Regions from separate parts of the Homo sapiens genome. Here regions 1 and 3 are each reported to be linked to region 2. The links are microRNA targets in miRTarBase. Many come from high-throughput screens and were not tested one by one. Region 2 holds a microRNA gene; each other region holds the end of a gene's coding sequence.
What was found. Region 2 holds the annotated microRNA hsa-miR-548aw (GUGCAAAAGUCAUCACGGUU, at 2,034-2,053, opposite strand). A microRNA usually pairs through its seed, bases 2 to 8, with sites in the 3' UTR of a target mRNA and lowers its output. Matches are read on the target gene's strand: a 7mer-m8 pairs with bases 2 to 8, a 7mer-A1 pairs with bases 2 to 7 and ends in A, and an 8mer does both.

Region 1 (3,167 bases), not on the chromosome of region 2:
ACTTAACATCTAATTCAATATGCAGCTTGATGTCTTAGCCACTCCTCCTTCAGAGGAATACTGACATTCGGTGTTGATATTCTGAGTCCGTGGGTTTAACTAGCTGTGATCAGCAGAAGCAGCTGCATGCAGTGCTCTAATTTTTTCTTTTCCCAAAAAGTTGGGGTTGGGAGTGAAGGTGCTGAGACTGGTTTGTGTCTTGCAGAAATTCCAAAGGCGATGTTGATACAGAAATTTAAAAGTCTTATTTAACAAAGGGGTTTGTGTATTTTTTGATAGTTTGGGTATTTATCCTGTTATTCTATATTCACCAAGTCAAAGTGGAATGCTTTTCTTATAAATATCTTTAATGAATAAGCCAACTTTAGATTTTAAAACTAGCTGCAATTTTATTTTCTCATAGGTGTCATCTTTAAGAAATGAAAAGCGAGGCTCATCATATCTCATCTCTGCCCCAGAAGGTGGTTCAGTGGAATGTGTTGACCAGCATTCTCAGGGCACAGGAGCATATTACATGGAAACTTACTTAAAAAAGAAGCGAGTATACTGAGTTAAGCTCTCTCCTAATAACCCCCTAAGGTTCTCTGCAGTATCTCTGCTGTTCATCGCTGCCTTAACTTCATTCAAACTAGCCATATCCTTTAAATACGGGTTTATAGTTTCCCAGAAGGAACTGTGTTGTGCAGCAGGCAGAAATGCCAAATAAAAAATAGCAATAAGAAGAGACATCAATTGAGGACATTTTCCACTAGAGTCAGATGCATCTTAATCAGTGTGCTAACTTACAATCCATTGGAGAAACTAACAATGTTCCAATATTCCTTGATTTAGGACTGGGAATAATTCTGACACCATATATAAAAGAAGTTTGAAGCAATAAATGGGAAACAGTGTTGTTTCCTGAGCCTTAGAAGAATGAGTTTCTTATAAGCCAATGTGCATTTCAATTTACTTTCCCTAGAAGTAATTGCATTTATAGATTTTTAGGACTTTTCCTAGAACTACAAGGGTGCAAGTACCAAATGTGCTGATGGTAATATTATAAAGATGCTCTACATGCACACTCAATTACGCCCACACCAGCCATGCAAAATTAAACCCGGTAAGAGAGTGACAGTGATATCCAAGGTATCCACTACTACCGATGCTTTAAGATGTTGTTTACCATTTATACCTTCTGTGAAAAATAGAAGGTATTTTAAGAAAAGTAACTTTGGTGATCTAATAAAAGGGTTTGGCAAACTACACCCTGGGTCCACATTTGGTCTACCACCCGCTTTTGTGCTGCCTGCAAGCTAAGACTAATGTTTACATTTTTAAATGGTTGGAGGAAAAAAGAAAACTTATGACATGAAATTTATATGAAATTCAGATTTCAGTGTCCATAAATAAACTTTTATTGGGACGTTGCCATGCTCATTCATTTACGTGTTGTCTGTGGCACTCTTACGCTACAAGGGCAGAACTGATTAGCTTCAACAGAGACTGTATGGCCTACAAAGACCATATGGCCTAAAATTTCAAGTATCTGGCCATTTATATATAGTTTGCTGATCCCTGATCTAATAGCACTAATTCTAATAGCAACTATTCCTTTCAATTCACCTAAAGACAGACCTTTAGCCTTTAGACAGACTTGTAAGTGGAAAGGAACATGGGTTTCTGTGCTCATTTCATAGCGTAGACTAGTAATGATCTAATGACTAGAATGGGGCCTATTTTGATCACTAAATGCCCTATTATTTCCACAATATAGTATAGTAAAGCAGTCAATACTGCACTTTCTGATGGAGTCTTAAGGAGTCACAGTATTTATAACCATTTTGAGCTAATAAGCTATACCTCACTCTCTGCTTTCTCTCTCACTCTTTTTGATAGTGTGTTAGGGTGAAAAATCAGTTATTTAACCCAATTTACTTGTGAAAGAAGTTTTATCTTTATGGACTATGATGACTTTTGACATCACCATTTCTTGAAGACCTTGGTATTAAATGCATGAGAAACCTTTTGCCATCTAGAAATTTCTAAGTTTGTTTATGTTATAAGACTGTAATTAATTGATAGGGAATTTGGGATCTCAATCCGGGGCTTTTTGAAATCAGATCATTAAATATCTCGTCACTTTGGGGACTTGTTATTTTTAACTATGATGTGGATATCCTGTTTTAATTATGAAGTCTAGAATTGGTACATATGTTGTATGCTTTGTAAAGAATTTCACTTGGTCTAATTTATTGCATATACTAGCTTCTGTTGGAAAATGACTGACAGCTAGAAAGTTTAAGGTAATTTCTAAGTATACTACCTATAAGTAACTGATAAGAATTAGGCATCATTCAGTGATATAGCAGATGACTAATGGGTTTTTCAGGCCCTGCACTTCTCTTTCCCATTTTCCTGTTGCATTCAGCCTCTTCAATGCTTAGTCACACCTCCACTATAGTACAAACAAACAAACAAACAGAAGAAAGGAAAGATGGTGAATTTTGCAACAGAGCTGCAAAAAGTCAGTCAGTCAAAGCAGGAAGAGGTTGAAGGAACTAAAACAAACAAACAAAGGTGTCTGGACTACAGCACAGTGGACATGCCATCCATACTGGCCTGTGCCCCGTTATCAATCACTGGGCACAACAGTGAAGAAGTGCAAATCAAGTGGTGTTTGTTTGTTTGTTAGTAGTAAGGACCGTAACCCACCCCTTCCTCCCCCCAAAACTATACTGTTATTTTTCTATGTAAGCAAATTGTTTGAAATGCTTTGAAAATGAAATCTTAATATTAAAAGGCATATGCATGTAAAGTCTTTAGTATATTTATTTGTATAAAGAGTAAACAAAGTGCATATAGAGTGGCCACAGGTTTGACACAGAGACCTTGGTGATGTAGGCTATGAACAAATTTAAATGGCAACTTCATTGCTGCCACTGAACCAATCCTGAATTTGGGCTCAACAGGTGAAAAGTAACAATATCAAACGAATACTAAACAGCATAACAAAAAGATTTTCAGACTCTTGGTCATAAAGACCGTAATCGTTCACATTGAATCAATGACTAAACATTTTTGATTACCCAGCTACCTCCAAGCAAACTGAAAACTGTCTAGTGGATCCTGAAGTCCATAGTGCCTCTAGCCGGGTCTTTCAAGTGTTGCACCACAGGGTGATGATT
Region 2 (3,167 bases):
CACAATCTCAGCTCACTACAACCTCTGCCTCCCAGGTTCAAGTGATTCTCCTGCCTCAGCCTCCTGAGTAGCTTGGATTATAGGTACCCGCCACCACGCCTGGCTAATTTTTGTATTTTTAGTAGAGACAGGGTTTCACCATGTTGGCCAGGCTGGTCTCGAACTCCTGACCTCAAGCCATCTACCTGCCTTGGCCTCCCAAATTGCTAGGATTACAGAAGTGAGCTACTGCGCCAGGCCACTTTACTTTGTCTATAAATTTGTTCTGACCCCGGGAGTCTCTCTGAATCTGTTGATTCTAGAGGCTGCCTGATTCATGAATTCTCTTTTTCTTTCTTTTTTTTTTTTTTTTTTGCTCGATTAAATTTAATCTAATTGAACTTGTCTTAAGCTTTCTTTTAACAAGCTCCATGATGGGCATCTCAGATTGGCCAGGCCTGGTCCACCTGCTGTGGCCTGGGGCTGGTACTGTGATTGTGAGGACCATCAGCACTGAAAGAATTGAGGATGGGCGGTTCACCTGTTCAGAAGGCGAGGGGGAGATGTCACACAGCCAAATGCAGCAGATGTCCTCCACCACGTGCATCCTGTCAGCACGCCCGCCTATGGAGGGCTCAGCCCTTTCATGCTCAGACAGGCCGGTCAGGAAGCCCCGTCACAGGGAGGCTCCAGGGTGGTGTATGGAAGGTAGTGGTCTGAATAGTGTCTGTTGAGCAAATGACAAAAATCAACCCCAGAGAAGCAGAAAACATCTAGGTGGCCCAGCCTGGTAAGTGGCAGGAGATGGTAGTAGAGCTGTCTCTGCCTGTCACCTTCAGCCTCTTCTTGCAAGCCCCTGGTGGTCCCATATTGAGGTAACAATGCCCATTCTTCTTCCAGACAGTGTAGAAACAGTGACAATGTGGTTATGGCCCCCTGGAAAGTGAGCAGTTGATGAGCTCTGCTTATGGCTGCTCTCCTCCATGGCAGAATGCATTCCTGCAGGATGAGGTCATGGAGCCAAGGAAGGTCAGGGTGTGGGGGGGCTTCCTGGGTCAGAGCTCCAGAGCAGTGCTGCTCCCCCTGCCCTCCTCCTTAGGTCTCCCATCACTGGTGGTCTCAGAAATCTCTGAAGATTTCAGAAATCTTGAATCCCTTCCCTGGTGTGAATGCAAAGGGAAGAGTCTGTTCCTGTAAAGTAGTTTGCAGATTGGTGGAACTGAGAGAACCCAGACCCTTCCCCGTTTCCCTCGACCTTTCCATCTCTGGACCCCATGCAGACTATGCTTGGGTGGTGACACAGAAGAATTTAGTGTTTGGTGGACCCGTTTCTGGAAGTGATGGATGCTGACAGCTGGCACTTAACAGTTATCAAAAATAACATTAACTGGAGTAGGCTCTGTGCCACTTAGAGCTTAATGACTCACTGACTTCACCCCAAATCCCCATGAACTAGCATTATTATTAGCCCTATGTTGCAGGTGAGGAGACTAAGGCTCATCCAGTTAGAACATGATGGCTGAAACCTACATTCAAACTCTGGTCTGTTTGAATCTAGAACTCTTAGCTTCCCCCCAGCGACTGTGTTAGAACAGAGGAATCATCAGTTCAATTTTCACCTCCCTCCTAAGCCTTCGTGGCTCTAGACGTATGGTTATAAAGGTTGTTCACTGCTCAAGGGCCCAGGAGGGTTTGGGGCTGGTGGATAGGGGCCAAAATACAGCCCAGGGGTGCCATTTTTCTAATTCTCACCAAGGCCCTATACTGACTAGCAGCGGCTCTACCCGATACCATCCAGGGCCTTTTCAGAATTCTGAAGGCACCCACGGTGCTGGCTACTCACACACCTGGCCCCCCTTAACCATGGCTGCCTTGCACTGTGACCCAATTGGTTCCCATGACAAAACCTGTTATTCCCATAACTCACCCAACACTTTTTTGCCCCTAGGCTCTTGCTCCTTTGGTTCCCTCTGCCTGGAATGGCCTTCTCTCCCGAGCCGCCTCGCCTGGTTCTATTAGGTTGATGCAAAAGTCATCGCGGTTTTAATGGTAAAAACCGTGATGACTTTTGCACCGACCTAGTATTTCACAAAACCTACATTTCCTTTAAAACCCAACCTGATGCCTACTCCTTCAAAATGCCTTTCATATCCCACAGTTCGACTTCATCTCACTCTGCCTCCTCTCACAGGGCTTTGTGTTCGTGCTGGATGGAGCCCATCATACTCAGCCTCGCAATAAAGGCCACCTATCTAGTGAGTGAGCATTTACTAGGCGCAGGACTCTGGGCTAAACGCTGTCCATACTTCATCTCCTTGATTCTTCACGTCACAGATGTCATTATGCCCATTTCACAGAGGAAGAAACTGAGGCTTGGAGGACTTAAAGCCTTGTTTCAGCAGGAAACGGAATAAGGCGTTCTGATTTTCAAGCTGTCTCCTATTAGGGCTGGTTTCCCCTAGATGTCATGAGTAGGTGTGAAGTGTGAGCTACTTGAAGGCAGAAGCCAGGGGGGTCCCCCGCAATCCCGGAGGCGGGCTTCTGAAAATGTTTAGCCCAGGAAGGAGGGCTGCCCTGGCCCGCAGCTTTCCGCCCCTTCCCAGGTGAGCTGCAACTCCAAAGCTCCCAAGCAGGCCCTTCACCCACGCGGGCCCCAGCAGCTCCTTGGGAAACAGGATCGCTGCTCTGAGGCCGCCCACAGAGAGACCCTCGGAGGGCGCCACGCAAGCGAAGGGCAGAAACGACTCGGGGGGCAGGGGCAGGGCGCTCCAACCACACCCAGGCGCCGCCAGCTTGTTTACGCCTCTCCGCCGCGTCCCCCCGCCCGCCAGTCACGTGACCGCCCGCCCCGCCCCCTCGGGCTCTCGCGTGGCTCCTCCCGCCGCGCCGGCCCTTCTTTTTGCCTCCTTCGCGGAGTCACAAGATCTCTTCGCAGCCTCCTTTCGGATCCTTCCGCCCGGCCCCGCCCCCCTCCATAAAAACCCTCCTTACTTTTTTTCTCGTCCAACCCACATCGTCAGTTATGAGTGGAAGAGCCTCTTCCTTCCGGCGGGGCTGCCGAGCGCGGCCGTCTATCCTTCCTTTCGAGAAGGAGGGGAGGTCCGGAGGGGGACTCTTTTTCGTGGCGGAGGCCGCCGTCGGCCTTGGCCCTTTCACGACGGGGGAGGTGCTGTACGTCCAAGATGGCG
Region 3 (3,167 bases), not on the chromosome of region 2:
CATCATTACCTTTGAAACTTTACACTCCATTGGAACTAGAAATAGAAGCTTCCTATTGAATACATTATTGATATAAAAGCTGCTATCGTAAGGGCATTTTCCTCTTTTCAATTCACCATTTCCAAAGAAAAAGACAACATTGGTGCTTAACTAGTTCCCGTTCTAATAAAATACTCTAGTGAATACACATTTCACTAGAATACACATTTCACATGGTATGGTTAGTTATTTTTATTTTTTAGGTAACTGAGGTCAAACCATGAAACTTTTATTTCCTTGGTAACTTCATCTTCTATTTTTTAGAATGACAGCAATTCAGCAGGAGCAGGTGGACCAGTGAAAATAACAGAAAACCGATCAAAGAAGACCAGTTTCTTTCGTTGCTCGCTACTTTGATGAACTCTTTCTGAGAGACTGCAGCACACCTAGAGGGCCCTTTCCTGCTTCTCTGAAAGCACAGGTCACCCAGCCTCAGAATCACACCTCCCGGCTGCTGCTGAGAGCACCACTGAACTTAGACCTCTCAACACAGTATGCCAAGTGGATTCCAGCCTCATGGCCTAGCAAAAGAACAGACTCCCTTTTTCAAACATGGAAGCAATGAAGTGGAGACACATGCAGGACCTAACTCGTTTTTTCCTTGTTTTATTACCTGTTGCAGAAGCGGTTATCTTTCTTTTTTACTTTGCACATCAGTGTTAGCCTTTCCCTATTTCAGCACAATCTTAGACTCATATTTGCACACTTTTGTGTCGTGAAGTTCTAGACAAATTTGTACATGTGGCAATGTTAAAAGAGCATTTACAGCAGAGGTTAATATACTAAAATTAAAGGGTATTTGGTCTGGTTCATATGGTCAAATATTACTGCCTTGGTAGCATTTATTTAAGGGCTTTTTCTTAAATAAGAATCATTAAAGTCATTAAAAAAATTTACTGAAATGCCCATCTTGTCATCAAAGGCCACAATTTCTTTATTTCTTCAGATTAAGAGCTTTGCCTCATCCCCGACCTGTTTTCCAGAGTCTGGGTAGCTGAATGAATCACTTTAAAATGATTACCTCTGCCTAATCTATAGAAACTGCATTTGGAAATCACCATAATCTCATTTTTCCCTGGGGTTTGTATTTGCTATTCTTTCCCATGTTTGACTTAAGTGTAATCACTCTTAAGTAATATTTGAACATTATTATCTGTTTCTATTTGTGAACTTCTTGAGCTGAAATTTTACGTGGGCTGAGAGATATACCATTTAGGGTTTTAGTGCAGCATCTAACTGTGATTCTGTCAATAAGGATATGTAATATATTTTTTCTTAGGTTCACTCCTTAGCTGGCTGGTTTAGTTGTAATACCAAATTCCTACCATAATCCCTGTCTACAAAAGTTAGGTTTAGATTTTAGTTTGCGGAAACCTTCCCTATATAGAGACAGATTAACTTGTTGATATAAATTTAATAGAGCTAGCTCTTGGTAATGGTGAAAATAATGAGTTTTGGTTGGTTTTATTTGGCAGATGTTTTTAGAAATAAAAGTACTTAGACCTAGTGCAGCCTCTAGGAAAAGTCTTGCCTTTTCATTAGAGAAAACAGGACCAAGGTTTCAGTTTTCAAACAGCTGTTGTTGATTGTGTAGAACCCAGTTCCATCTGTTTTGGTTCATTGTTACAGAACTTAGTCCAGTCATTTGGGCTAAAGCCAACCAAAAGCTTAGTTGCCTTTCTCAACAAACACTGGTACTGGTATACTTTTGTAGATGAAACCATCACAAGGTATTTAGTGTTAACTTGTGTGCCAAATTCAGATCACTATGTCGTTGTTGCTCTAGCCTTCAGTGTCATAACACAGGGGGGATAAAACAGAGGGGATGAGGGAAATGAATTCTGTTAATAATTATTCTTCCTGGTATGCCTGTTTTGCTTCACAAAGGCTACTATCATGCTGGATAGATAAGAACAGGAGATGGCAGTGGAAAGGGATTGCTTGTTACCACAGAGAATTCTCTTCAAATTAAGATATGTCATTAGAATGCTTGGACCAGTCAATCTTTTGTACTTATTTGAAAATATAGGAACAATTTAGCAGCTGCAAATATGCCCAAGCTATTTTTAATAGATATACTAAACTTATTGTTGACAAATTTCAGCCTCCTTAATTTTTTTTTTTTTGGTAATTACCTATAGGCTTAAAAGTCATTCGTTGCTGTTCTAGTATAATTAGTAGTTCCGTGATTGAAAGTTTATTGTAATTCTACTATCTTCAAATTAGATACATTTTCAAAAGGAAAAGATAATTTTTTAGAAACATCTTAATATTCACTATTTCCTGAAAAAATCCAAGCAGTTAACGCTTTCTGGATGGTAACAAAGTACCTTCTAAAAGATAAGTGCTATGACACCATGTATGAATGTAATTCTCTTAGTAATTTACCTCTGACTATTTGGTGTCTTAACGCTTTGGTTTATATAATCTCAGGGGTTGTCTGCAAACCAAAACTGACATATTCTGTGGTTAGCTTTTATTACTTTTTTTTTTAACAGAATGCTTTGCTTTGGTTATATTTCTTCTTTCTTCTTTTGTCTTATATGGATTAATAACTAGTCTCCATGAACTTCACTTGAAAGAGCCTGTAAAAGTTAGATGAGTCTAAAAGTGCTCTTTGAAGTAGCAGCAAATTGGGAGTATATGCTCTGTTATATAGAAATAAATTGTCCTTGCTATTTTCTTACATTTAGCTTTGCTAGATTGTATATACATTGAGCTAAGACCTTAGGAAATTCACTTTCTGCATGATAAAATGACCCAATAAATATTCCACTTTGCTTAATAATGTACATACAGTGCATTATTTTTTCTATTTGTAGATGAATTTAATGACAGATAATTGTCTGTTCCCCGCTGAAACTGAAGAAATCTAGTTTTTTTGTGAACATTTTTGTGGTCTTATGGATAAGGTACATGAAGATTTTTGCAGCAGTATTAGTGGTTCAGTGGCTGCACTTTATTAATCAGTGTGTTAATTTTTGACAGTGATTGGACTAGACCTTTTCAAATAGAGTCTGAGGGTATCAGACAGTGAAAATGTGCTGTAACTAAGTAGCATGTAAATCAGTTGATTGTAAAACGTTTCGCTGGGAACTTATTTTAGCTATATTTTACTTCAGACAGAT

Region 1: miRTarBase lists RAVER2 as a target of hsa-miR-548aw. Seed matches in the 3' UTR shown: 8mer at 2,485-2,492.
Region 3: the mRNA of RAB8B is a reported target of hsa-miR-548aw. Seed matches in the 3' UTR shown: 7mer-m8 at 2,964-2,970.

What each region holds. Positions count from the first base shown.
Region 1 is chr1:64,830,436-64,833,602 of GRCh38, forward strand. RAVER2 (ribonucleoprotein, PTB binding 2) reads left to right here. Exons shown (of 12, transcript NM_001366165.2): 12 at 404-2,797. The coding sequence ends at 550. It overlaps JAK1 (Janus kinase 1), which reads right to left. Exons shown (of 25, transcript NM_002227.4): 25 at 2,794-3,167. Among named protein-coding and RNA genes, the nearest start is that of RAVER2, 87 kb to the left of the region's middle.
Region 2 is chr9:132,944,600-132,947,766 of GRCh38, reverse strand. It overlaps MIR548AW (microRNA 548aw), which reads right to left and starts at 2,060; the gene lies at 1,996-2,060. TSC1 (TSC complex subunit 1) reads left to right here and starts at 3,151. Exons shown (of 23, transcript NM_000368.5): 1 at 3,151-3,167. It also overlaps a transcript of GFI1B not described here. RefSeq lists enhancers at 2,434-2,573, 2,934-3,167, 2,546-3,167 and a silencer at 2,754-2,833.
Region 3 is chr15:63,263,224-63,266,390 of GRCh38, forward strand. It overlaps RAB8B (RAB8B, member RAS oncogene family), which reads left to right. Exons shown (of 8, transcript NM_016530.3): 8 at 304-3,167. The coding sequence ends at 396. Among named protein-coding and RNA genes, the nearest start is that of APH1B, 13 kb to the right of the region's middle.